Linked DNA regions of Homo sapiens. The protein of the gene in region 4 interacts with the protein of the main gene of each other region in a biochemical or structural test. Each region holds a gene or a part of one and is shown on either strand. Other genes may lie near its edges. The genes, in order: PECR, NR2F1, HNF4A and ISL1.

The links.
Region 1: the proteins of ISL1 (region 4) and PECR form a complex in vitro, tested with the Homo sapiens proteins (one study listed by BioGRID).
Region 2: the proteins of ISL1 (region 4) and NR2F1 form a complex in vitro, tested with the Homo sapiens proteins (one study listed by BioGRID).
Region 3: the proteins of ISL1 (region 4) and HNF4A form a complex in vitro, tested with the Homo sapiens proteins (one study listed by BioGRID).

Annotation. Positions count from the first base shown.
Region 1 is NC_000002.12:216,071,796-216,078,821, reverse strand, and holds part of PECR (peroxisomal trans-2-enoyl-CoA reductase), read left to right. Parts: intron 1-7,026. UniProt on the Homo sapiens protein: Participates in chain elongation of fatty acids. Catalyzes the reduction of trans-2-enoyl-CoAs of varying chain lengths from 6:1 to 16:1, having maximum activity with 10:1 CoA. Has no 2,4-dienoyl-CoA reductase activity.
Region 2 is NC_000005.10:93,586,213-93,593,238, forward strand, and holds part of NR2F1 (COUP transcription factor 1), read left to right. Parts: intron 1-886; exon of another isoform or gene 887-1,018; coding exon of another isoform or gene 1,019-1,031; intron 1,032-1,704; coding exon 1,705-2,232; intron 2,233-7,026. UniProt on the Homo sapiens protein: Coup (chicken ovalbumin upstream promoter) transcription factor binds to the ovalbumin promoter and, in conjunction with another protein (S300-II) stimulates initiation of transcription. Binds to both direct repeats and palindromes of the 5'-AGGTCA-3' motif.
Region 3 is NC_000020.11:44,358,690-44,365,715, forward strand, and holds part of HNF4A (hepatocyte nuclear factor 4-alpha), read left to right. Parts: exon of another isoform or gene 1-2,232; intron 2,233-7,026. UniProt on the Homo sapiens protein: Transcriptional regulator which controls the expression of hepatic genes during the transition of endodermal cells to hepatic progenitor cells, facilitating the recruitment of RNA pol II to the promoters of target genes. Activates the transcription of CYP2C38.
Region 4 is NC_000005.10:51,386,430-51,393,455, reverse strand, and holds part of ISL1 (insulin gene enhancer protein ISL-1), read right to left. Parts: exon of another isoform or gene 6,856-7,026; coding exon of another isoform or gene 6,830-6,855; intron 5,967-6,829; coding exon 5,707-5,966; intron 3,811-5,706; coding exon 3,524-3,810; intron 2,183-3,523; coding exon 2,015-2,182; intron 1-2,014. UniProt on the Homo sapiens protein: DNA-binding transcriptional activator. Recognizes and binds to the consensus octamer binding site 5'-ATAATTAA-3' in promoter of target genes. Plays a fundamental role in the gene regulatory network essential for retinal ganglion cell (RGC) differentiation.

The DNA.
Region 1 (7,026 bases), on a different chromosome or scaffold from region 4:
AATAAGGTGATAGACTATATTTTTCTTACCACAAACTAAAACATTAGGACATTGGTCTTGTAATCTTTTGGAAGACATGAATCTGTCTGAGATTCTGATGAAAGTGGTGGCGTGTCTTTTGAGAAAAAGACATCATATACTTAAAAATATATATACACAATTATTTTGTTGTATTGGAAATGGATTTCCTTCAGTGAAAGAATATTAAAAATCTTTTTCTTTTTTTTTTTTTTTGAGATGGAGTTTCGCTCTGTCGCCCAGGCTGGAGTACAGTGGCGCAATCTCGGCTCACTGCAACCTCCACCTCCCAGGTTCAAGCAATTCTCTGCCTCAGCCTCCTGAGCAGTATTTTTAATAGAGACGGGGTTTTACCACGTTGGCCAGGCTGGTCTTGAACTCCTGACCTTATGATCCATCCCCCTTGACCTCCCAAAGTGCTGTGAGCCACCGGGCCTGGCCATAAAAATCATTTTTATAATTACTTTTTCCTCTTTATTTTTTTATGCCAGAATCAATGGCTATTTCCACGACATTGTCATATTTTTACTAGAGATGGGGTTTTGGCATGTTGGCCAGGCTGGTCTTGAACTCGGACCTCCAGTGATCTGCCCGCCTCAGCCTCCCTAAGTGCTAGGATTACAGGCATGGAGGCCCCGCGCCTAGCCTCCAGTTTTCTTTCTAGTCAGAAGGCCACTGTTTTTTGTTTTTGGTTTTGGTTTTTTGGTGTGAACTATGTCTTTTTGGCATGAACTTTGAGGCATGGTTTTTAAAATGATGATATTTTTGCTTTTTTTTTTTTTTAACGAAAAATACAGGTGTTTTCTTTTTTACTTCATACTATGCCAGATGGTAACCAAAGATAATTTAGATGTTCATTAAAAAATATTTAAAAGACGAAGACAATTTTAATTACTCATAATTAACATTATTTTCAGAAAAATGGCTAAAAATCTTACAAACTTCCTTCCAGTCCATTTTTGCATGTATAATCCATATTTTTTTTTTTTTTTTTTTTGAGACGGAGTCTTGCTCTGTAGCCCAGGCTGGAGTACAGTGGCACGATCTTGGCTCACTGCAACCTCTGCCTCCCAGGTTCAAGCGATTCTTCTGCCTCAGCCTCCTGAGTAGCTGGGATTACAGGCACATGCCACCATGCCTGGCTAATTTTTGTATTCTTAGTAGAGACAAGGTTTCACCATGTTTGCCCAGGCTAGTCTCGAACTCTTGACCTTGTGCTCTGCCCGCCTCAGCCTCCCAAAGTGCTGGGATTACAGGCGTGAGCCACTGCACCCGGCCCTGCATGTATTTTTTTTTGAGATGGAGGTCTTGCTCTGTCACCCAGGCTGGAGTGCGGTGGCGCGATCTTGGCTCACTGCAAGCTCCGCCTCCCGGGTTCAAGCCATTCTCCTGCCTCAGCCTCCCTAGTAGCTGGGACTACAGGCACCCACCACCACACCCGGCTAAGTTTTTGTATTTTTAGTAGAGACGGGGGTTTCACCGTGTTAGCCAGGATGGTCTCGATCTCTTGACCTTGTGCTCCGCCTGCCTTGGCCTCCCAAAGTGCTGGGATTACAGGCGTGAGCCTCGGCACCCCGGCAAATATTTTTTATTAAAAGTAAAATTGGGCCAGGCGCGGTGGCTCATGCCTGTAATCCCAGCACTTTGGGAGGCCGAGGTGGGCGGCCACCTGAGGTTGGGAGTTCGAGATCAGCCTGACCAACATATAGAAACCCCATCTCTACTAAAAATACAAAATTAGCCAGGCGAGGTGGTGCGTGCGTGTAATCCCAATTACTCGGAGGCTGAGGCAGGAGAATCGCTGAACCCGGGAGGCAGAGGTTGCAGTGAGCTGAGATGGTGCCATTGCACTCCAGCCTGGGCAACAAGAGCGAAACTCCATCTCAAAAAAAAAAAAAAAAGTAAAATTGGAATGCTGTTAGGTTTAGAATTCTATTTTTCCCAATAATATGGTATGCATTTCTCCAAGTAAGTCTTCAATAGCAAGATATTTATTTATTTATTGAGATGGAATCTTGCTTTGTTGCCCAGGCTGGAGTGCAGTGGCTTGACAGCAGCTCACTGCAACCTCTGCCTCCCAGGTTCAAGTGATTCTTGTGCCTCAGCCTGCCACGTAGCTGGGACTACAGGTGTGTGCCACCATGCCTGGCTAATTTTTGTGTTTTTAGTAGAGATGGAGTTTTACTATGTTGGCCAGGCTGGTCTCGAACTCCTGACCTCAAGTTATCTGCCGGCCTCGGCCTCCCAAAGTGCTGGAATTACAGGCGTGAGCCACTGCACCAGGAACAATAGCAAGATATTTAAATGGAAGCATGTATATTTCATTGTTATTGATTTAACTATTTCCCTCATATTGAATTTTTAGGTAATTTCCATTTTTTCACTTCTCAAGACTACATCCTTGCATGAAAATCTTTGCTTGACTCTGTTTCCAAACATTGTGGCACATGTGGTGGCATGGCACATGCTTGTAGTCCCAGCTACTTGGGAGGCTGACACATGAGAATTGCTTGAACTCTGAAGGCGGAGGTTGCAGTGAGCCGAGATCACGCCACTGCAATCTGGCCTGGGTGACAGAGTGAGATTCCATCTCAAAAGAAAAGAGAAGAAAAAAATTGGCTAACATTTTCTTTTTTGCTCAATTTGGGTTTATATAACAATGTCTTTCACTTCCACAGGATTTTGACTTTTCCTTTTTCTGAGAGGACACAGAAAGCTTTAGCTCACAAAAGCAGGATATTGTAGGCAGAATTAGATCTCCTTTATACCTTTGACAGGTGCTGTTAGGCAGAGAGAAACCTGATTTCATCAAGGAAAACCTAGCATCGTCAAGTTGAATTCATATCAGATGTTTTTTTATCTTCAAGTTAATCATTCACTTTCTGTTACTACAGTAGAACATAAATTAGGTATAGTAGATAAAATGCAATTAGGAAATGCCGGTGGAAATTATGACCCAAGACAACATTTTTTCTTGCTCTAGTCTAGTCTAACTAGCCTGTTACCAACACCAGGGACCAAGAAGGTGCTGAATAAATGTAGTATTCTGAGTTGAAGATGGAAAGGGATCAGTATCAGCCTAAGCAGGAACGCAGCATACTGGGGCTACAAGCCTCTGATGTTGAAAGAACTCCTTATCCACAAGCTACTTCTATACCTATTCTAAGCAGGTCAGTTGAGCTTTCTGCATCTCTCTAGCTACATATAAACAAAAATAAAGTCTATTGAAATGATTTAGCATGAAAGGCAAGGATTATATATAATATTTTTCTAGTTTATTATAAGGTAGCATAAGAGGTTTGCAATAAATTAAAACAGTATAGAAGTGTATAAAAGAAAAAAATGAGCTTTACCCATTCTGCCCTTTTTCTAAATTCCCTTCCTGGTGATTTTCTACAAATTTAATGTGCACATGTATACACACGTATATATATTTTGTTTTCTACAAAATTGGGATCACAGTATTCTTACTGCTCTGTAATGGTTTTTTTTCCTACTTAAATATCTTGTTTTTTCTTTGTTTTGTTTTGTTTTTTAGAGACAGGATCTTGCTCTGTCACCCAGGCTAGAGTACAGTAGTGTCATCATAGCTCACTGCAGCCTCGAACTCCTGTCTGAAATGATTCTCCTGCCTCAACCTCCCAAGTATCTAAACTATAGGCATGTGCCACAATGTTTGGCAATAAAAAAATTTTTTTAGAGACAAGGTCTCATCCAGGATGGTCTTGAACTCACCACAAGCGACTCTCCAACCTTAGCCTCCCAAATTGCTGGGATTACAAGCATGAGTCACCATGCCTGGCCCATATCTTGTGTTTTTCAATGGTAGTATTGTAGTCATATCTCATTCATTTTAAAGCTGCATAGTATTCCATTGTGTGGGTCTGTAATAACTTATTTAACCATTTCCTGAATGGCCATTTAGGTTTTTATTTTACCCAGCATTGCATTGTTTTTCCCTGTAATATGTTTGCACCCTAGTTCAAGTTTGTCTATAGTGGAAAGTTCTAGCAGTGAAAGTAAATGGACTTGTAAAGTTGTATTTCAGTGCATCTTTACTTGTAGTAGACAACTGTCCTGAAGTCTTGAGGTTTCAGATAGTAACTAGTTATAATTTAGTAAACTTCTATTTAGATAATCCATGTGAATCATCCTATTTATATTCTCAACATATTTTTTACTCGAGGTCTTGGACAAAGTTAGGCATTAATCACCTTGGTGTTCTTGTTTTCTCTCTCTCTCTCTTCCTTCCTTCCTTCCTTTCTTCCTTCCTTCCTTCCTTCCTTCCTTCCTTCCTTCCTTCCTTCCTTTTTTTCTTTCTTTCTCTCTCTCTTTCTTTCTTTTCTTTCTTTTCTTTCTTTTTCTTTCTTTCTTGACACAGTCTCACTCTGTCACCCAGGCACAATCTTGCCTCACTGCAACCTCTGCCCCCAGGTTCAAGCAATTCTCGTGGCTTAGTCTCCTGAGTAGCTGGGATTACAGGCGTGTGCCTCCATGCTCAGCTAATTTTTTTGTATTTTTAGTAGAGGTGGGGTTTCACCATGATGCCCAGGCTGGTCTTGAAGTCCTGAATACAAGCGATCCACCGGCCTTGGCCTCCCAAAGTGTTGGGATTACAGGCATGAGCCACTGCACCCAGCCTAGGTAAAGTTTTTCATCCCTGCCCTATAGAGCCTATGCCCTACTCTGGGAACTAGAGCAAAAAATGTGTATGTTGAAGGCAGAAATATCAAAGAAAGAAGTGGGTGGAGGAAGTGGTGGCTTGTCCTGGGGTGCTTATTTCTCTCCTTTCCATCTCACTGATAAGCTCAGCTATTTCTCCTAAGTGACAGAAACCTAACTGAGTGTTGGATTAGTCTAGAAGTATATACAGTCATGTGTCACTTAACACAGGGAAATCTTCTGAGAAATACATCCTTAAGTGATTTCATCATAGTGTGAACATCATAGAGTGGTAGGCAAACCTAGATGGTATAGCCTACTATATACATGGTTTATATGGTCAATAGCCTATTGCTTCTAGGCTCCAAACCTGTACGGGAGGTTACTATGCTGAAGGCTGCAGGAAATAGTAACACAAAGGTAAATATCTGTGGTCTAAACATATCTAAACATACAAAAGATATAATAAAAATATGGTATTTTTATTATAAAATTATATAAAAACATACAAAAGATATAATAAAAATAAAAGATATAGTAAAAATATGGTATAAAATATAAAAAATGGTACACCTGTATAGAGCACTGTATAGGACACAGGAGCTTACGGGACTGGAAGTTGCTCTGGGTGAGTTAGTGAGGGAGTGATAAGTGAATGTGAAGGCCTAAGACATTATTGTTTACTATTGTAGAATTTATAAACACTGTACACACAGGCTAAACTAAATTTATAAAAAAATAAAGTAATTGCAGCTATGACATTACAGTGGCTACAGCACCACTGGATGATAAGAATGTTTAACTTCCACTTTAATCTTATGAGGCCACTGCCATACATGTGGTCTATCATTGACCAAAACATTGTTATGGGGTGTGTGACTGTGTTTCAGTTATTTTTCCTGCTGGAAGAAGAGGGCCCTCCTGGAAACAAAAGGAGAAAGGAGTAAGCTTCTCCTAACAGTATAACGTATGTTTTTGTTGCACATTATATATTTTGATAAATTAAATTCCATTTTAAAGTTAGGCAAGGCTTACAAGGAACTTATGGTGAATCTTTCCAATTTTTGCTTTATAAAACCCTCAGATTGCACACGAGAATTTCCAAAAGTTGTTACCATTTTTAGTTTACTAAATTATAACCTAAACTTTAAACATAGTTTTTAAAATTGTCTTATTTTGTACAAGCTCTATGGAAAACAGTATGGAGATTTCTCAAAGAATTAAAAATAGAATTGCCATTCAATTCAGCAAACCCACTACTGGGTGTTTACAAAGGAAAATAAATCACTATATGAAGAAGACACCTGCTCTAGTATGTTTATCACAGCACTATTCATAGTAGCAAGTTAAGAATCAACCTAAGTGTCCATCAGTGGATGATTGGATAAAGAAAATATGTTATATATACCATGGAATACTACTCAGCCATGAAAAAGAATGAAATCTTGTCTTTTGCAGGAACATGGATAGAACTGGAGGCCTTTATCCTAACTAAAATAATTCAGAAACAAGGTCAAATGGTGCATGTTCTCACTTATAAGTGGGAGCTAAAGAGTGGGTACACATGGACATACAGAGTAGAATAACAGACATTGGAGACTCTAAAAGGTGGGAGGGTAGAAGCAGGGGAGTGAGGGTTGAAAAATTACCTGTTGGGTACAGTGGCCACTATTCAGGTGATGGATACACTAAAAGCCCCATGTAACAAAACTACACTTGTCCCCCCTACATCTATAAAGATAAGAAATAAAATAAAGTGCCTTATTTTCATATGCAGTAGCTAGCTTATCTTATACAACTAAAATAGTTCAGGCCAAATGGAGAGCCTTTGTACTCTGTGCCTTTGTGAACTTTATTTATTCCACCTGTATATGCTGGACTGTGTGTTAGCCTAACAAATAGAGCAATTACAGGGTCCCTACCTCCCAGGGGATGACAGTGAGTGGAGCAGACTGTTAAATTAACAGGTAATTATGATACAGTGAAATGCTGTATTAGGGTGAAAACAGCCTATAACTGTATCACCTCACATAGAATTTAACACTGAAAAACCACTGCAATCCAGCCTGGGCAACACAGTGAGACCTCATCTTTAAAATATATATGTAAAAGAACCACTTAACAGTTCATAGGTAGTCTTTGCTTTTGCATGGCATTGTGGCATTGTAACAATGATCATGCAAGCTGAAACCATTCAAAGCAAAAATAGTCAATGGGAAAAAGTACAATTATTTCATGACCTTCAAAAATTTTTGTCAAAGTGGCACCCAAACGGGACTTTCAGGGACAAACAGAGACCTGAAGGGACCTAAAGAGGCCTGCAGGGACAAATAGAGATAAGTAGGG
Region 2 (7,026 bases), about 42 Mb from region 4:
TAGTTGTGTCATTTTTTTTAAAGCATGATACTCGTTTTATTTCTTCATCAAACTCCACCCTCTGCTTAAATACTGCATACAAATTACAATTTACAACGGCATTTACCGATCCTTCTGATTTGGCCGTAATGCATAGACTGCAGCTAGCATGAGCTTCCACATCATTTAATCCCTGTGTTGTATGGGTTTGTTTTTTTTAAAAAAAAACACAACTTTTGATGTTGTATTTGGATATGCTTCATGTTCATGTGGCAAGAGATGCAGTACTTTTCTTATAAATATATTTAGCCGTTTACAGTTAAAGTTTATCTCTTGACAATCATTAAAGATGTCTTATAGTCAAATTAGCGAACCAGTCAATTTTGCAGAATGCAGATTACTCCTTCTTGTAATTGACTTTAAAATTATATTTTATATGCCACAAGAAAAGAAATTGAATTCCTTCAGATCTCAAGGAGCAGACAAATATGACTACTTCATTTCTAGCTCCAGGGAGATTTTGTAGGCATCTGAAAAAAAAAAAACTTTGAATTGTACTCTCACTTAATTGAAAAATAACTGCCAAGTTCAAAACTATAATTAGAAAAAAGTATTCTAGGCATTATGTTTCAAGAGCTTCAATTGCACTGGAACTTGCATTAAAATTAGAATCAAAGCAAACTTAAGAAAATAGAACAAAACCTGAAATAAGATAGCTACATGTACATGAACATATCTATATTAATTTGTTGGGGGAAGAGTTCAGTAGCCCTAACTTTTCCTAAAGTTGTCTTTGTTTATATGGCAATTTAAAACGCTGGCACTGTTGAAGTAAAACATACACATTTAAAAAAAAAAAAAAAAAAACTTTGGTCAGCTTTAAGAACTCAAAGCATGCTTACGTTTTGCATTCAGATGGTTAATGAATCCAGTGTTTTTGCAGTTGAAAGCTCGTGCATTCACTGGGCAAAAGCTGGCTGCAGGTTGCAGTGGCACCGCGCAGGACAGACATTAATTATATTTCCTACTTTTTTCAATAATGTTTGGCTACTGTAAGTTCAACTTTTTTTCTTGAAAATTTTCAATTTTCTGTTGCTTTTAATAGTGAGAACTTTGTATGGGGCGACGGGGAGGAGGGGAGAAGGGAGGGGTGCAGGATACTTGTTCTCTACTCAAAAGTTGTAAGTGGTTAGTAGGATATGTAACTTGTGTCTATTTTAAGAATTATTCTATAGCATTTTAAGAGAATGTGGAAACATTTTATCAGCAAAACGCTGCTTGCTTGCAAATGAGGAGGCCGCTAGGCATTTGCCTAGAACCACAACCTTTCTCCGGTTTCGCCTTTTTTTAACCCTGATTTTTTTTTTCCATTCTGGAGGGGTGAGTGGGGTTTCATTTATCTGTGTGTTCCCCCGTGGTGGCTTAGGGGTTGGATGACACTTTCTTGACCTTGCCAGGGTTGGGGCCCTGGAGTCAGGCCTAGCTCCGGCGGGGCTGACGTGGCCAGGGGCTCAGGCAGTGGCTGGACACACTGAGCTGTGGAGCTGGAGGGCCTCACCCCAGATCTCCTAGCGGTGTGGACTGTGAGAGCGAGCCGGAGAAGATGCGCGGGGCGCGTGTGGCTGCGGGAAGAGCTTCTGCATTGTGTTGGGTACGCTGCGGCGCGGCAATGTTCGCAAGCTCCCTGGATGCACATTGCCTCTTTTCTCTCTTTCTTTTTGTCAGCGGTTCAGCGAGGAAGAATGCCTCCAACCCAGCCCAATCCAGGCCAGTACGCACTCACCAACGGGGACCCCCTCAACGGCCACTGCTACCTGTCCGGCTACATCTCGCTGCTGCTGCGCGCCGAGCCCTACCCCACGTCGCGCTACGGCAGCCAGTGCATGCAGCCCAACAACATTATGGGCATCGAGAACATCTGCGAGCTGGCCGCGCGCCTGCTCTTCAGCGCCGTCGAGTGGGCCCGCAACATCCCCTTCTTCCCGGATCTGCAGATCACCGACCAGGTGTCCCTGCTACGCCTCACCTGGAGCGAGCTGTTCGTGCTCAACGCGGCCCAGTGCTCTATGCCGCTGCACGTGGCGCCGTTGCTGGCCGCCGCCGGCCTGCATGCCTCGCCCATGTCTGCCGACCGCGTCGTGGCCTTCATGGACCACATCCGCATCTTCCAGGAGCAGGTGGAGAAGCTCAAGGCGCTACACGTCGACTCAGCCGAGTACAGCTGCCTCAAAGCCATCGTGCTGTTCACGTCAGGTGAGGCTGCGGTCGCGGGGAGGGCAGGCCGCGCCGGCAGCGAGCGCAGGCCCCGCGCCGCCCGGGCCTGGCCTTCGGAGCCTCCCGCGCGGCCGGTGCGGGGCGGGCCGGGCCCTCGCTGGACACTGAGCCTGGCCCGGGTCTGTGACCCCCGCGCGGTGACCGGCTGGCCGCGCCGCTGCCATCTTGGGAGCGCGGCGGTGCGGGAACCGAGGCGGCGCGGGTGCGGCCGGCGGGCGGCCGGGCCTAGTCGCCCGGACCCCTACGTGGGGCCGCGGCTGCCGAGGGTGTGTGTCTGAGGCGGGGGGGCGGTGCTGTGGATCCGTCTGGCTGCGCGCGCGCGCGCGCGTGTGTGTGTGTGTGTGTGTCTCTGTGTGTGTGTCTGTGTGTGGTGCGTGTTATGTGTGAGCCAGAGCTCAGCGTTTCTGGGGGAGGCGAGGGAAGGAAGAGAACGTGGGAATGTGGCTTCTTACCCTGTGTGGCACTCTCCTTGAATGAATTTCCCGACACAGAGAGACACAGAGAGAGGTGGAAAGAGAAGAATACGCACAAATAAATCATAATAATCCCGCTTTATCGCTGCCTGATTTTCCCTTATCGGAAACCATTCATGTTTGCAGTTGGTGAGGTTATTGAGGGTCGTAAAAAACGGATTCGATCTAAACAAGAAAGATAAAAAACAAAAGCAATGCTGTAGAACCCGCAAGTATGGGAGGATTCCCCGCCTGAAGATGAATTCCAAAGCTATGCAAAACACATGAACACTGGAAATTTAAGAGTGCCTTAAAAAATATCAAATTATGTGTAGGCAGTGGTAACATGCATGTTAACAATTTCTCTTATGATAGATGGTTCAAATTAACTTCCAGAAAAGTGCATTAACGTTTCCTTTGAAGGGCTCTGGTCTGAGCCTCCGAGAACAATCCCCGCTTTTTATTATTGTAACCTGTAAGAGGGAAACATATAAACACCCAGGACAGCAGGTAATGGGGAGAAATAGAGACAAAGCCAGAGAGGAGGCTGGTGGCAAGTAGTGCTGCTTAGACTGGGTCTTGGGCCCTGCCCACTGTGAGTAGGGTTAGCTGCAGTTTTACCACCATTATTGGCAGTATTGTTTTTAATTCCTCCATTCGGAGAACAAATAAACCATCCTAATAAATCTATCCTAGAACCAGGCTTTCCAATGGCCAAATTAAAACCATTCTTGAACAGGGATAGCAAAATCCCTTTCATAAGGCCTTGTTGAACAGTAAGCAATGGTATAATCTATCAATATTTCTTGGCTTTCATGTGTGAAGAATTGTATTTACATTGTATTAAAATGACTCCTAAATTTGCACAATATTGTAATGTAGCAAATGTAGTATTAATATCGATCTGAACAGCAGATAATTTATTTAGACAAGAGCATCTCATTTGTATGCAGGGTGGCCAGAGCAATGGACTTGGACTGCCCCCCTTTTACTTTCAGTGCAAATGCAGGTCTGCTAGTGAGAGAGGGAGTTATTCTTTCCAAGAGGATAAAGTGCAAACCTTAAAACAAATGGAAGATTTATGGAATAGCCTCCTCCGTATTTGAATGCATTTTATCTTAATAAGTCTTCTTGATGGAAACGTGTTTTTCAAAAGTGACAAAGAGCCTGGGAAGCAGCAACCAGGCTGCCTCAGCTCTGGCAGGCCTGGGGCCTGGCTGGCTCTCTACTACCAGGCTCTTTAGCCAAATTCATCAGGAAGCAAGCCAGTGTCAGGGAAGCTGGGGTTTGAAAATCTCATCCAGCGAGGTGTCTTGAAGCAGAAATGTGACTTGGAACTGGACAGACGTTTTCTCAGGAAAGGTCTCTCCTCTCTTTTCCTTACACCCCCTAAGGTTCTTTGAACCCCCTTGACTTTGCTAATCTCATGCCCTTTCCCAGAGAGAGGTGAGGACTGTGCAGGCTGCAGGGAAACACTGTGGAATTATTCATGCTTTCCTTTTAACTTTCCATACTAAAACATTCCTGTGAAAAGTGTTCATTTAAAAAGTTTTCCAAGGAAGTTTCTTGAATCAAGTCTTCAAGGTGCAAAGAGTGCCTAGAAATGAACAATAACATTATTTTGTTGGAAAATTGCAAGCAGAATATCTGAAAATGGAAATAGAGCTGTCAGTAGTAATTCACCTCCCCCCTCCCATGCAACACATTTCCACTTTTGACTAAACTTGTTTTGATTGCTAGCCAGAAGGGAATTCATGGGAAGCCTTCTCAAAGTCATCCAACTTTTAAGCAAACTTTGAATGATGGAAAAGACAGTTTTAGACATATTGTCCAATGTGGTTTGCTTTGGCTAAGTATTTGAAGCTGGCACGGGGGTCCCCCGTGGTGGTTTTCACATTTGGCCTCCGGATGGTATGTTTAATCCTTAATATTCTGGACTGCATCCAAGGACTAGGTCATGACCTGAACTTACTTTTTAAAAAATTCATTAGTTCATACACCTAAATATTCCTTCAAATAAATGAGACTTTCTCTGAAAGGAGCCATCTAGTTAACATAAATACAATAAATCCATTTTCAGCACAATAATAACTTTGATTTCTAGTTATGGCAGCTGATTACATCTATATTTCCTGAACACTAAACTCTTCTGAATGCACAACATGAAATACATTCTCTGCACTACAAAGGCTAGGCCAGGAGGGCCTGAGCAGTAATGGTTATTTATTTACATAATTTCTTTTCCATACACTGTAGAAGAAATATTGAGAGTTCCCACATTGACACTACCGTATAAAAAGTGTGACATGGATTTTGCACATTCTGCCTCATTTTCTTATCTGGGGTATAACTCATGGAGCATAAATATATACTGTATTACACCCCCTGGTCACCTAGCTTTGTCACCACAACCCCCTAGTTGATCTGGGAGCTCATACCTTCTGTCCACAGTTGAGGGAATCCTGTTGCAAAGGGGTGAATGAATTTCCAGACTGGGAAGCCAGGCCAGAACCAGGGCTCCTGCCGGAGGGAAGCCACAGAGCTAGCTGGCTGGTACCTGGCAGGCAGGCCCAGCTACAGGCATTCACCTCCAAAGGAGGGAAGAAATGGAAGCAACCAGCACAGGACCCAGGCAGGCCTTTCCTGGGCTTCTTGTCTCTCTTGGAGCGGCCTGTTTGGGAGTTGGGAAGTGACCTTGTACTCCAGGGACCCTAATCATAAATGTCAGATAGATATTTTACTGAGCTGAGGGGATGCCAGATGGATCTTAAAAAAAAAAAATCTGCCGGGATACCAAGGGGCCCTTTTCACATTGCATTGTCTAGGGCTGAGAATGATCCATAAGCATGCAGGCAGATAATGCATGTAAAGCAAGCTCTATGTAATTATGGGTCTGGGTCTGAGTGAGGGTCATTCATCAGGGCCAGGTTAGCAAGCAGGGCCAAACTCACGGTCCCCTCTCTAAGCAGCAAAGCCCCACAGAGCTCTTGCTGCCCTGGCCCTAATAGCCATAAAGTCTCATTTGGCTTCCCATATCAGACCAGTGTGGATATACCCAACTGGCTGGCTGGAGTAATTAGACATCTGAGAGGAACCTAGTCTGTATCTGAGGTCAAAGGGGACTTGCCTCAGAAGTTCTTGAATTATCACTAGTTTTATTTGTATTTTTGCTCGAGGCCATAGCCTTGTAGATGAAGGTGTTAGAATGCTTTGTAAATCCCAGTTCTTGAAATATAAGGTCATAAAGCTCAGAAACTCAGCAGACACAGGTTTCACTTTGAATCATTTGTTGTGTCTTCTTAGGGTCACACTTGCCCATTCAAAATTATACAATGTCATTTTGGGGGCATTGCCATGCATCAATTTTTTCCCAGATCTATATATTAGCAAATTCTGCCTTTGATCTCTAGTCAACCTCCTGACTGGCTAAGGGCTCCTCTGTGATCTTACTGGTTTTTTTTTAATATTTATTATTAATATAAGAAACAAGTGGGTATTTGAACTAGGAGAGGATGCCTTTACTCCATTCCTCTTATTCCATCTTTCCCTCCCTATGCTTGCCTCTAGTTAGTTGATATAATATAATCTGCTGTCCTGAAATACTTTTAGAGGACCAAGAAGGGCCTTGGTTGACATGAACTAAGCACACAGATTTTGAGGTGCTGTCATTGTGCGGAGGTGCCTTTTTCTCCCTTGGTCCTGCCACCAAAAGCTTATCTCCCCCCAAGTCCCCCCTCAACTCCCCACCACCCACATCCCCCCCTACCCCCCCAGTTCTGAAGCAGCAGCAGCTGCTGCCTGTAGCCTAGCTTTGTGTCTGATTGCTGAAGATGTCGCCTTTCTGCAGCCTGGAGTAACTGAGTCATATTCTTCCTGATTATTATACAGCTTACAGAGATGTGACCAATTTTCAATTACTTGATCTAAGGTATAGATAGAAGTGTACACCCTCACCAAGGATTTGCTGCAGAGTCCTTTCTTGCATAGATAACGGATCTGAAATCCTATATTGCTAAAGCGTGGGCTTCATCTGATTCCAGGCACTGCCAGCCCATGATTCCTTACCCCCTCCCATGTGTTTGTTCACTACACAATCTAGGTTCTCCTGGAGGTTTCTGGTTGGGGTGGTTTGGGTTTGAGAGGGGACTCCAGGAATCCTTTAAGAACTGCCTTCAGGCTGCATATTTCCTAAGGGGTACTGAACACCCCCAGATCAGAGGCAAATGGGGCAAAAGTTAATGAGCACGGCCAGAAAGATGCTCCCTTGCAGGCCGAGGACAGGTTGTTAAGCGCAGCAAACATGGTTCCAGCATTGTACATT
Region 3 (7,026 bases), on a different chromosome or scaffold from region 4:
ATCATCTCCTAAGATGACTATAGTAGAGGTGCATTGGTGGGTCAGGGACATGGCACATAGCAGAGCCTCAGTTAGAGGCAGAGGAAGACATGGCTGTTGTGAGGATCAAATGGAAGGATCCATGAGTGCTTAGAACAGTCCTGGGTCCAGAGCAAGCACGCAAGAAATCCTCGTTGTGGTTTCATGTTTTTGAGCTTTAGCAGGATTCTAAAGAGCTGCTCTTTGGTGTGGTGATGCTGGGTGGACTTGGCCCTCCCTGGACTTCCGGTGCTTCCACGGCACACTGGTTTTGGCTTTGCGGTTCTCGTCATCGCTCTGATCAGATAGTTGCTGGTGTGAATTGTGGTGTCTGGCTGCCCCACCAGACTATAAACTCCGTGAGTTCTGGGACCTGGGTAGTTTGTTCAGCCTTGTTTGTCTCACTATGTCTCACATGGTGACTGGCACAGAAGAAATGCTCAATAAGCATTTGTTGGATGAGTGAAATGATGGGCTTAAAACAGCGCTACAATGATGATCATCAATGTCAGCCAGATCCCACTCTCTTGCCTTCCTTCCTCTCTGCCCTCCTCACTGCGTTGTCTTTGGTCCTTGTATTTGCCCCATTATAACCCAAACTGGCTGTCCCAGCTTCAGCTGTCATGTCTGCACTTACGTGTCTGAAGCTGGAGGCAGGAGGAGAAGAGGTTTTCCTCAGTGCCCTTGTTTCTTTTATCCAAAAGCAAAACTTCCCCAGAAACCTCCTGGCAGACTCCCCTAGTTCAAGGAAAGCTGGGAAGACAAGTATGTAGTGGAAAGAGATGGGAAAGCCAAGATGGACCTAGACCAGTGATTTTTCTCTTGGGGTGTGGCACACTCCTGCTCCAAACAGAACTGAGGCTCTGGTATAAATGAGTTTCTCAGCCTCAGCACTGTTAACTTTCTGGCCTGGAAGATTCTCTGTGGTGAGGGGCTGTCCTGTGCACTGTAGGATGTTAAGCAGCATCCCTGGCCTTTACTCCCCAGATGCCAGTAACATCTCTTCCCATCAGTTTTGCCAAAGAAAAAATGTCTCCAGAAAGCCAAATGTACCCTGGGGCACATATAACCCCACTGTGTTATAGGAGAACAAGGTAGTTCTGGGGAGTGTCTACCACAATGGAGTAGAGTAGACTGTGACTCTTGTGTTGTTCTGCTTTGAGTGCCAGGATCTTGCTCAGTGCCAATCTGGTACTACCCTGAGTAACTCTGAGGATGAGATGCTAAACATGCATATCTGTGTGCTAACCTGACTCCTGGCCTTATTACTTTTCTACCCTTATTTTCCCTTTAACAAGTTTCCCTTGGTTATTTATTTTGCTTCTTTGGTAGTTGCTCATTTCCGTAAGTACCTCGAATCTCCTTAAAGGAAAGGTCTGTATCTATCTCATTCTTTTTGTTATAGTCCAGCCTTCCACAGGGCCTGATCCCATGTAGACCTTGATTGAAGATTAATTAAGTGGATGAATGAATGGGAAGATGGATGGATGAATAAATGTATGTTTAGGTGGGTGGATAGGTGAATGGACTGATGAATGAATGTGATGTGATGAATGGATGTGATAGATGGGTGGAGGGATGCATGAATGGAATAGAGGGAGAAATAGCTGGATGGATGAGACAAATGAATGAGTAACTGGGGAGATGGCTGGGTGGATAGATGGGTGGATGGATTAATAAAAAGATGTTATGGGTGGATGGTTGGGTGTGGAGGATGATGCATGGATGGGTAAGTAGATGGATGGAAAGATATGTAGGTGCATGTGATAAATGGATGAATAAGTAGCTGGATAGATGGGTAGGTGGTTAGGGGAAGGATGGATGGACAAATGATGTGATGAGTGGGTTGATGAAAAGATGGATGAATGGATGGATAAGAAGGGGTGGGCTGAGGTAGCCTGGAATAGCAGCATCTTCAAGTGCTCTAAACAGGACAAGTGAAGAGATAGGGGATGTCAACAATCTTCCATCAGGGCAATACTGTATATCTGTTTTTAAGTGCCAGGTGAGCCTAATTTTTCCTAGCTATGTAGGCCTAGTCCCTTTGACCAATAGCATCAGCTTGAGGACAGATCAGAGGCCATTGTCGGAGACAGTTTGGTGATGTGGCTCTGCCCCTTGAAGCTCTATGATGATGGTGCTTTGCTTCACTTCTCTGGTCCTCAGTTTCTTCACCCATCAAATGAGCCTTGGTTGTTGTGAAGATTCCATGAGCTAATGAAAGAGAAAAGGTAATAGAAGCTATAACAAACATGCCGTGTCCTTGTGAAGGGTGGATAGGCCCAAAATCGAGTAGGACCCCAGATGCTGGCTGGCTATGGGACCGTGTCCAATATCAGGCTATGGCTGTTCCCACCCTTCATTCTTAAAATATGGCCCCTCTCCAGCCCTTCCCCTATCTCCCCTCCCACATCACCTTCCCATCCTACGTCAATTCAGTCTTCAGCCCCTATGATTCACAAACCTGGTTGCACATAGGAAACTTTTTAAAACAATTTTGGGGCTCCACTCCAGACCCAGTGAATCAGTCTCCTGGGGTGAGTTCCAAGAGTCTGTAATTTTTTGAGCTCCTTGTGTGACTTAGGGTATGCAGTTCAGTTGAGGTATGGAAACCATTGCCTTACTTTCTCCCATTTAGTAAACAGAGGAACTAAATATCCAGAGTGCATCTTGCCTCAACCCAGAAGCCTCCCGTATTCATTAATTCATTGTTCATTTGTTCATTTCTTCAACAATCTTCCACTGGAGGCTTATGGTATTTAAGACATTTTGTAAGGCACTGGGGAAACACAGGAGGATAAAACTTTGCTTCACGTGGTGGCTCATGCCTGTAATCCCAGCACTTTGGGAGGCCAAGGTGGGTGGATCACCTGAGGTCAGGAGTTAGAGACCAGGTAGAGGCAGAGGTTGCAGTGAGCCAAGATCACGCCACTGCACTCTAGCCTGGCGACAGGAGTCAGACTATGTCTCAAAACCAAACCAAAACAAAACAAAACCAAAAAAAAACAACAAAAAAAACAACTTTGCTTCAGATCTTAAACTGTGCTCAGTTTGGCAGGAGGACAGACAAGCCAGCAGCAACCAAAGACAGAGTGCCATGATAAGGACAGCAAAGGCACTGTGGGATACAGAGGGACTTAGGAGAAGGGGAAGGGGTCACAGACTTCTTGACCTTGGAGGAGTAGACTGATATCTAAGCTGGAACCTCGGTTTAGCAGGAGTCAGCCGGGAGAAGAGACGGTGGGGAAGAGTGTTCCCAGCTGAGGGAACAGCATATGAAAAGGCCTGGAGCCTGGCCACACACTGCTCTGATTTTACTTATATTTGACTGCAATTAATTCCATCCTTTACTGAAAGTATCTTGAGACTTGTCTGGTTGTTTCATGATTGATTAATCTTATTCCTAAAAGCATGCTGAGGCTGGGCATGGTGGCTTATTGTGGATTACACGCCTGTAATCCCAGCACTTTGGGAGGCTAAGGCGGGTGGATCACTTGAGGTCAGGAGTTCCAGACCAGCCTAGTCAACATGGTGAAACCCTGTCTCTACTAAGCATACAAAAATTAGCTGGACGTGGTGCCAGGCGCCTGTAATCCCAGCTACTCGGGAGGCTGAGGCAGGAGAATCACTTGAACGCAGGTGGTGGAGGTTGCAGTGAGCCGAGGTTGTACCACTGCACTCCAACCTGGGCAACAGAGGGAAACTTGTCTTAAAAAAAAAAAAAAAAAAAAAAAGCATGCTGAGATGCTTAAGTGAAGGAATTGTGCCTTCCATTTTTCCTGACTCATATGCCTGTAGCATAAGGATGGGTCAATGATAACGAAAGGAATTTGTTTTCATTTAAGCCCCTTTTATGTAATGGGCAAGATGTTGGCTATTTGATATGTTTTCTCCCTTTTAAGCCTTGCAATAACCCATCCAAGTAGGAAATATTATCTCCATTTTATAAACAAAGAAATTGAGATTCAGAGTTGTTAAGTCACGTTTCCCTGCATCGCCTTGCAAATAGGTGATTAAAATCTAGTCTGACACCAAATCTTCATTCTTTCAGCTATTATGTCATAATAGCATCCAAGGAGTTTACCACCTTCTACCACCTACTAGCTGTGTGACCTTGAGTGAATGACTCAATTCTCTTTTTTTTTTTTTTTTGAGACGGAGTCTTGCTCTGCTGCCCAGGCTGGAGTGCAATGGTATGATCCTGGCTCACTGCAACCTCTGCCTCCTGGGTTCAAACAATTCTCCTGCCTCAGCCTCCTGAGTAGCTGGGATTGTAGCTGGGGTTACAAGCGCCTGCCACCATGCCTGGCTAATTTTTTTTTATTTTTAGTAGAGATGGGGTTTCACCATGTTCGCCAGGCTAGTTTTGAACTCCTGACCTCAAGTGATCTGCCCGCCTCGGCCTCCCAAAGTGCTGGGATTACAGGCCTGAGCCACTGCGCCCGGCCGACCCAATCTTTTTTGCCTCAGTTTCCTCATCTGTCAAATGGGGTTGATGATAATACCATTTACTTCACAGGGTTGTTGTGAGACATAAAGTCAATATTTGTAAAGTGCTGAGTGTCTAGCACATAGAAAGTGCTATGTGAATTTGAACGATTATTATTATTATACCTATAGTGTGTGCATCTACTATATGCAAAGGACTGGATGCTTACTAGGTGTTAGCATCATTTTGGCTGTTGTAGAAACAACAGAGATGAGTAAGGAATAGATAACTGGTCCCAGGATGCAACTGTCTCTGGCTGGAGACTAAGGACAAGGCTTTGTTGCAAGCCTTCTGGGGCCCTGGGATGCCCAGGGTCTCCTCTTGGGGGTGCTGGTTCATAGATGGGGGCCTGTGTGGCTCCTTCACAGAGGAGGAGGCAGATGAGAGGCATAGAAAGGGAGGGGACAGACCTATCCTCATCAGAGACCTGGGAGATGGCTCTGGCCCTGGCCCTGGGTAGCTGTTTGTGACCTCACTCAAGTCCTTCTCCTGCTGTTTCTCCATCTACTCTTTTTTTTTTTTTTTTTTTTTTGAGACAGAGTCTCAATGTCACCCAGTGGCTCTATCTCTGCTCACTGTAACCTCCACCTCCTGGGTTCAAGCAATTCTCATGCCTCAGCCTCCCAAGTAGCTGGGATTGCACGTGTGTGCCACCACACCTGACAAATTTTTGTAGTCTTGGTAGAGATGGGTTTCACCATGTTGGCTAGGCTGGACTCCTGGCCTCTTGTGATCCTCCCACCTCGGCCTCCCAAAGTGCTGGGATTACAGGTGTAAGCCACAGCACCCAGCCTCCATTTCCTCTTTTGAGAAATGGAGGTATGACAACCATCTGGCTCAGCCATTGTCACACAGTATTCCCTGGGTCCTAAGAGTCAGGAAAGATGCTGCAGGGTTCCCTTTGAGGGTAATGTGGGTAGGGACGTGTTCAAATGGACTAGGGCTTAGCCTCTCCCCACCCTTCAACCTCTGGCTCCATCAGAGACACTTCTTTTTGACTTTTGTATATTTCTTTTTATTTTATTTTAGAGACAGGGGTCTCGCTATGTTGCCCAGGCTAGCCTCAAACTCCTGGGCTCAAGCAATCCTCCCGCCTCAGCCTCCCAGCCCCTGGGATTACCTGCTCATGCCACTGCACCCGGCACTCTGTTTTGACTTTTAAATGAAATATTTAATGGAGGGTCTCCACAGTTCAAAAATATTTGGAAAATCAGAAGACCACACCAGTGTGTTTCAAACTGCAATCTTAACCCAGGAATAGGTCATGCAATTTTTTTTTTATTTTTTTTTTCTAGATGGAGTCTTGCTCTGTCACCCAGGCTGGAGTGCAGCGGCACGATCTTGGCTCACTGCAACCTCCGCCTCCTGGGTTCAAGCAATTCTCTGCCTCAGCTTCCTGAGTAGCTGGGATTACAGGTGCCCACCACCGCGGCCAGCTACTTTTTGTATTTTTACTAGAGACGGACTTTCACCATCTTGGCCAGGCTGGTCTTGAACTCCTGACCTCGTGATCCACCTGCCCCGACCTCCCAAAGTGCTGGGGTTACAGGTGTGAGCCACCGTGCCCAGCCGGTCCTTCAATTTATTGGGATTATATTAGTTCAGACAATATAGCTTATGTAACAAGCAAATGCAGACTTTAAGTTAGAAGTTTATTGACCTCTGTGGCATAGTCATCCAGGGACCCCTAAGGTCACCCTAGCCCAGAAAGACACTTTCACTTCTACTCACATTCCATTGGTGAGAACTAGTCACATGGCCCTTGCCAAATGCAAGGGGGTCTGGAAGATGTGGTCCCTAGCGGGGCGGGACTAGCTGTAAAGTTTGTAAAGGGGAGCGTGAATTAGTTGGTACACAGTTGATCGTCTGTGCAGTAGGGTCATGCTCACACGTCCCTCCACACACACACGTTAAATATGTATAACAAGTGTAAATATACAATTTAAAAAAGTATCTTTTTTTTTTGGTTTGTTTTTGTTTTGTTGTTGTTTTTGAAACAGGGTCTTGCTCTGTCATGTGGGCTACAGTGAGCCACAATCATGGTTCACTGCAGCCTCAACCTCCCAAGCTCAAGCAATCCTTCCATCTAAGCCTCCCAAGTAGCTGGGACCACAGGTGCATGCCACCATGCCCAGCTAATTTTTTATTTTTATTTTTTTGTAGTGACAGGTCTTGCTGTGTTGCACAGGCTGGTTTCCTACTCCTGTCCTCAATCTTCCTGCATCAGCCTCCCAAAATGCCGGGATTACAGGTGTGAGCTACTGCACCTGGCCTTTACAATTTTTTACATAAAATGTTTCAATAAAAAAGTGCATAGATAGATACAGAGATAGCAATAAAGCAAATGTGACAGAATGCAACCAGTTGGTGAATTTAGGCGAAGGGATACATCAGTGCTCACTATACTAGTCTTTCAAACTTTAAAGTTTGAAATTTTTCAAAGTAAAATATTGGAGAAAATGAAATTCTTAAAATTTACTAGACCTATAAGTAGACTAAAACAATAAGTTATAACTAAA
Region 4 (7,026 bases):
ATAGTATTCATAAAAAGATTATAAACTCATCATATTGTATATGTAGAAATGTTTGTGTAGATAGATATGTAAAGATATTCACATAGATAACTGAATTTTAACAGGCTTAGAGAAAGCCTAGAGGAGAAAAACTTGGGAAGAAATCCTCTCACTTTCCCATCTTCCAAAAGATCTCTGTTTTAACTGAAACTGAATTCCCAACATTATGTTGCATTAAATTATTTAAGAACAAATGTGTTTCCCACTGTAAAATGGCATCACAACTCTACTATGCATGCTCGAAATAAAATTATCCTGCTGGCTACATGTTGCCCTGGGAGTAGGTGAGCTCTCAGTCTCTAGGCATCAAAGACTCTCTTCTTCAGTTGGAAAATCCGTAACAGGCTCAGATCCTTTGACAGGAGATTGAGAGGAGGCTCCACAGAACAAAGATTAACTCCTCAGCAGGCTCACAGCTTGGGCATTCTTCCTTGTTGGTCCTGCTGCCTCTTGGCCTTTCTCTCTCTCTCTCTTTAAATCAGGCTCTTCCTTCCAAAATGAGACCCATATATTATGACATCATCCCATTCTGACTCCTTCTTTTAACCCTAATATCTGACTCCTTCTTAAATATCTGACTCCTTCTTTTAACCCTAAACGCATTGTACTGCTGTTGTAAACCTTCTCTAACTATGCCCACTCCTGCCTCAGCTTCCCTTCCACTGCTCTCATCTGACACTAAAGTTTCAGAAAGTGCAAACATTTGGCTGCCCTGAAGCCTCCCCTTACCTTCCTCCTGTGATTCAGGATTCGCTCAAATAACTCAACAGATTAATGAGCTTAGAATAATTTTTTTTTCCTAGTTCTAGAGCCTACATTTCTTTCTACAGTAAATTTTTCCAATATGAGATTAAGGGACTTCTAGCCTCTGCACCCACTTAGCATTTGCAAACACAAGCCTGGGGCCAAGCCCTTTTAACCACTTGCCTCTGGCCAATTACCTAACTGTTGACATTGAGAAAGCAAATGCCCTCCAGGTAAATATGAGGGTAAAAAGCTAACCTCAACTAAAGCTTCATTTCCAAAAAAGGGAACAAGGTTTCAGGATAGATCTTTACATTTTATAAAACAAGATTCTATAAGGCTGATTACTCTTTAAGAAAAAAAAATCATCTATATAAATATAGCATATTACAAAGGACATATATTTATTGTTCTTATTTATCTTGACCCCTTAAGCCTTTTGTAGGCAAAAAGTGAATTAATTTTCTCCTCTCTGGATGTGGAAAACATGTTAAGGTTTTCACAGATTAAACACTTTACTTCTGATTGGTAGAGCTCATGTCCCTTTTGCTATACATGGTACACACTGTGTGTCTCTATGACATTTGAACTCATACACTTGAAAACATTTAAACGGTCCTACATTTTAGATTAAGACATTCCCAGCAAGGGATACTGTAACAAAAAGTATTCATCTATTTGAATAATCTTTATTAATATATTTGAAAATTGTACCCAGACACATGCCTGCTGTTTATTGATAACAACACTGATTGTGTATTATAGCATTGATTATATACTACAATCGCCTTGATTTGGGTCCTATATATCCCATTCTCTAGATGCTCAGGAAGGATAAACTTACTAATTGCTGATTGAAATGCCAAGACGATTTCCTGAAGTCCTTGACAACTCTAAAATTCTAAGATGTATGATTCTCCAACACTGTACATCTTCTGGCACATGCTACCTAGAGTTAGGTACCTTGAAATTAATCCTTCAAAGAAGGCCTGATTGATAGAAAATTCAACCTATATGGTCAAATTATGCAGTCTCATTAAAAAAAAAAAGATGCCAAGAGGTTCGTTTTCCCTGCATTTGTCTCCCTTCTCTTCATTACCCACCTCCTTGGTTTCTCCCCAACCCTGAGCCCAAGAAGGCACCCTCCCCACTGAATCTTTCAATGTGTGACAGTTAAACCAGAGTCTCCTGTTGGGAATTCAGCCTCTTCCATCTGGGAGCTGACACTTACCAGTTGCTGAAAAGCAGGCTGATCTATGTCACTCTGCAAGGCGAAGTCGCTCAGTACTTTCCAAGGTGGCTGGTAACTTTGTACTTCCACTGGGTTAGCCTGTAAGCCACCGTCGTGTCTCTCTGGACTGGCAGCCACCATGGGAGTTCCTGTCATCCCCTGGATATTCTGTGAATAGGCCCCCCAACCAATCCCAACATGTTAATGAGCAAATTCCCTCCCTCCGTTGTCTGCACAGGCTAAGCAAATATACCCTGGTATTATCTTATCTATATAGTGGTCTTTATTGACTCAGTTAATCCGCCGTACCTACGGATATTAGTTAGAATTCAATTTGTTTTATTGTTTTGTTTTTCTGCCTCTGTGGGCTGGACTATTAGGTCTGCATGGACCTTATTAAACCAAATTCTACTTTGATTTTCTTCTTCCCCCTTACCTTCACAGCTCAGCCCAATTCCTCCCCTCTGCCTTCTCAGACCATAGCTTCCCAGAACTAAAAAGCTGAGGTAAGCAGGGCTTCCCTTCAGCCTCTAGACAGGGTGGTTTTCTGAGCAGTTTCAGTTAGCTGCAGATTTTTTCCAAGCCGTTCTCCTCAAGGAAGAGCCAGCCCCCCACTCCATCCCCCCAAAGCATTTGGGTCTGGTTCCTATTGTGCTATTATGCACTAACCAACTCAGAAAGTGCCCTGGCCCAATCTTGGCCAGCCTGCCAAGTTTAATGACAGCAGATTTTATGGCATTTAAAAATAGGTCCAAAGCAGTAAAAAAAAAAAAAAAAAAAAAAAAAAAAAAAAAAAAAAGAAAAAGAAAGAAAAGAAAAAAAGGAAGAAAAGAAACTCTAGCTTAACTTCACCAGGAGGCCTGCAGAGTGGGTGCTTCCGTGGGACCAAGATAACAGTGGATACTGGTGCGAGGGGCCTGATGCCTCTGTGGAGGCCTGGGCTTCACCTGGAGCAGAGGGTGATCTGGGCATGCGGGTCACCTTGGGGGAACTCGCCAGCCTGAAGGCGCAGCGGCCGACCTTACTTAGAAGTGCGGTGCGCCCTGGGGGCTCACAGGGTGACCTGCCCACGGAACCCCTGGATGTAGGCAGGAATCCAAGGTATTATCCCTCCCTCTTCTTGTGTACGTGAGGAACTGACGATCTGAATGTTGGCAAAACCCGGGCCAAACCTCGTTGCCGCCTGCCCTCAGAGGGGAGGACGGCGTTTCTCCGGTTCACAGGTACAGGCGAGGTGGAAGGGCATGAGCCCACCCACGAGGTTGGGACCTGGATGCTGCTCCCCCGGCGCACGGAGCCTCCCAGCTTCCCCGCCCTCAGCTGGCGGCCGGCGCCGGGTAGCCTGTCCCCCGGGGCATGGGTAGGGGGGTAAGGATGAGGGGCAGCCCCGGCCAAACTCCTGCCCAGGAGCAGGATTGAAAACCGTGCGATCCTGCGTACCAGGAACGCACCTCGCACGCTGCGTCTCCTTCCCCCTCGCATTCCCTGCCCGGCCCCAGAGCCACTCACAGTTTTGTCATTGGGCTGCTGCTGCTGGAGTTGCTTCATCATGATGCTTCGCTTCTTGTCCTTGCACCGCTTGTTTTGAAACCAGACCCGGATCACACGGGGACTGAGGCCCGTCATCTCTACCAGTTGCTCCTTCATGAGCGCATCTGGCCGCGGGTTTGCGGCGTAGCAGGTCCGCAAGGTGTGCAGCTGCTTCTCGTTCAGCACAGTCCGCACGCGGGTGGTCTTCTCCGGCTGCTTGTGGACGTGGGGCCGCAGGGCTGGCTGCCTGGCGGAGATGGGCTCCGCTGCGGGGCAAGGAGCGCCGTGAGCGCTGGGCTGGAGGCTCGCTTGCCGGCCCGCCCGCGGTCGCGCGCTCGCTCGCTCGCTCGCTTGCCCGCCCGCCCGCCCGCTTACTTGCTCGCCCGCCCGAGATACTCAGGACAATGGCTAGGGTTTGCAGCCTCAGCACACAAAGCAGGGGGCGGCAGAGGTGGGGGCGAAGAGGGTGAAAGGGAGAATAAAATCTTCCTCTCTAATCTGCAGAGGTCTTTGCTGAGTAATCCCGGCCTGAAACGCAGCACTCGCCCCTCCTCGTGTCAACAAAGTGTTAGCCAAGGGAAGCAGGTCTCAAAGTCTGTCCCCCTGTTCACAGCAGGGGTGGCATTTTTCAGCACTGTTTCTCCTCCATTCTCACCTTTCCTTGTGCCCAGACTGGGCCCCAGTTACATTGATTACCACCCTCTCCAGGATCAGAATTTTCTCTTGGGCCAAGGCCACAGAGGGTACCAGGGAAAGGAACGCAGAGCACTTCAGTGACAGCCATAAATACTACACCAGCAGGGACTTCTGCAAGGGGAAGGTCGAGAACTCTGCCAGAACGCCTTGAACTTCAGTCCGAGAGGACAGTCATGTGAAGGGGCTGAAGAGATTCGCTATTTCTGCCATATCTCCAATCCCTGCTCTTAGTATTAAATCTAAGGTAATACATGGATGTTCCTGAGATGGGCTGATCCCAAGCAGTGGAAAACGGAAACTCTGTTGAGCTGCCTAGGCTCTAGATAAACGGTGGCTGGGAGATGTCCCCCGCCTCCCTCTCGGTATTTTAGCTTCCTCTGTGCTTCCCCACAAGCAGAGTGCAGGCTCCACTGAACAGGAGCACCACCCCAGCCGTGCCCCGGTGCAAACTAGTCACAAATCCCCCTGAACAGAATTCTTAGAGCTGCCAGAAGGCAGAAGGGTAAGGGAGGGCTATAGTTTCCTCACCTTCAGTGTTTAGTGGGAATTGATACTTTAAAACTGCAAAGGGGTAGATCTATTCATGGCAGGAAGTCAGGTTTGGAAACACTGTCCACCTTCTAACCCACTGCTTTGGTCCCGGCCAACCTTGCTGTGTTTCCACTCCTCTTCCTTGGGAATGAGTCCTCTTATCTACATGATACAAATCCTGCACCTTCTACAACCCCCTAGGGTCAGGCCAACACCTATGGGGTCAATTTAGAGCTACAACCATGGGCCTGAAGATGAAATTCTCACCAAATCATATAGAATGAATGATTTAAAGAAGCAGGCTCCCTTTAAAAGGCAATTACTGCAGATAAGCTTGTTGACAGTTTTATATTACAACTCTGTGCAATGGCCTGCAGTTTTTAAAACTGTATCTTTTCAGTCCTGTTCTCTCACAGAAAGATAAAAAAATTAAAAAAAAAATTTCGAGTGTGAAGCAACTCACAAGGAAAAAGGATTTGGGAGACTAAATGACTTCAGGCCACCTAAGCTTCCTTCATTGGGTTAAAGGATGAAGCTCCAGGGACCCGGGGCTCCGCCCCTTTAATTAGGCAGCAGGAGAATACCTGGCTGGGAGCTGAAGCCCGTTTTCAGCAAGCCAAGGTTTGGAGGCCAGAGCGAACTGGAAGTAATGTTTGGGCGTGTGTATACACGTGTACACAAGTGGTGTACATTTATGTGTAACCATATAGAGACACACAGACGGTGTAGGTGTGCTCGGGGAATCAAGGGAGACAGTGAGTGCATTGAACCTTGCTGCAAAGGAGCAGAGCACAGCGCAAATTGCATACAGAACACTTCATTTAACTGCAGGCAAACACTACGACCACCCCTGTAGCTACCATAGTTGTTGTGGCCGCTGGCACACAGGCTGGCTTAACCTGGCGCCTGCCTACCCGAGCCGGGCAGAGGAGTACCTGCCATTTGCAGTGGCCGCGCTGGATGCAGGGGACTGAGCGGGTCGCCAGCGCCTAGACTGGCCCTCTCCACCACATCGTGGTCTGCTCGGCAGAAGAGACCGTCCTCCCGAAGCGCAAATTCGTCCCCAGGGATGAGCTGGCGGCTGCAGGCCACACAGCGGAAACACTCGATGTGATACACCTTGGAGCGGGCACGCATCACGAAGTCGTTCTTGCTGAAGCCGATGCTGCACTTGGCGCATTTGATCCCGTACAACCTGTGCGGGGGAGGGGGGAGCGGAGGCGGCCCAGAGCGGGGAGAGAAGTACAGGAAGAGGGGGTCACTTCAGGCCGGCACTTCCCTGGCCCAAGATCCCGGGCAAGACGCCCCAAGTAAACAGCATTTCCAAACAGAAGTTGGAAACAGAAGGACAGAAATGAAACCCTGCTCTCTCCTTCCCTGTCTCTCTTCCTTCCCCCATCTCTCTTTTCCCCTCCCTCCCTCCTCCCTTTCTTTTACTCCCGTTTCCTTTCCGATGAACCTCTGTCTTAGTTGGTAACTCTTAGCTCAAAACACCTAGCTTGTACCACAGAAAATGTATTGATGGGTTCCAAACTCGGGCTGCTGCTCTAGCAATCAATCCCAGTGTTGATCTTGCAGATCTTGGCAGGAAGGAATCCAGAAAGACTCTGGTGGCCACCGACACCAACACTTTCACTTCCCTATCCCACAATTTCTGCTGCTAGAAATGTCTAAAACTGCAACAAAAAGTCCTCCTTCCAAGAAAAAAGGAGGTAGGAGAAGGGGATTGTCACCCCACTCGGTTTGCAAACACTCACAAATAAACAAGCAGAATAACAAAATGAAACCTCTGAGAGTTTCCACATCTCCTTTTGCACAAGTACTTTCCAGTCTTTCTCCAACTAAAGATTTTCTTCAGGCAGCAATGTTAACAGAAAATTTCCTCTCCATTCTTCCTTGTATTATTATTTTTTTAAAAAAATCTGCGTCTGTTCCCTCAATCTTTTTCAAGTTGCTGAATCATCTACCTCATTTCAATTTTCTTGAAAACCATGACCAGAATGAAAAAAATGCAAAGACCCGCTTCTAAGGTCTTTCTCACTCCTGGCCTTTCCTTACCAAGGGACAATCTTTATAGGTTCCATCTAGGCTGCACTTCCCTGGCCCCTTCTCCATCTTTCAGGAATAACAGAAGCTGGGGCATTCCTACGAACAGAAAGAATGGAAGAGAGAGGAAAAGATCCACATAACAGGAGGAGGCATCCTGCTTCTCCAAGGAGAGATGTGGAAATCTAACTGTCCAGTCTGTTCTGCTT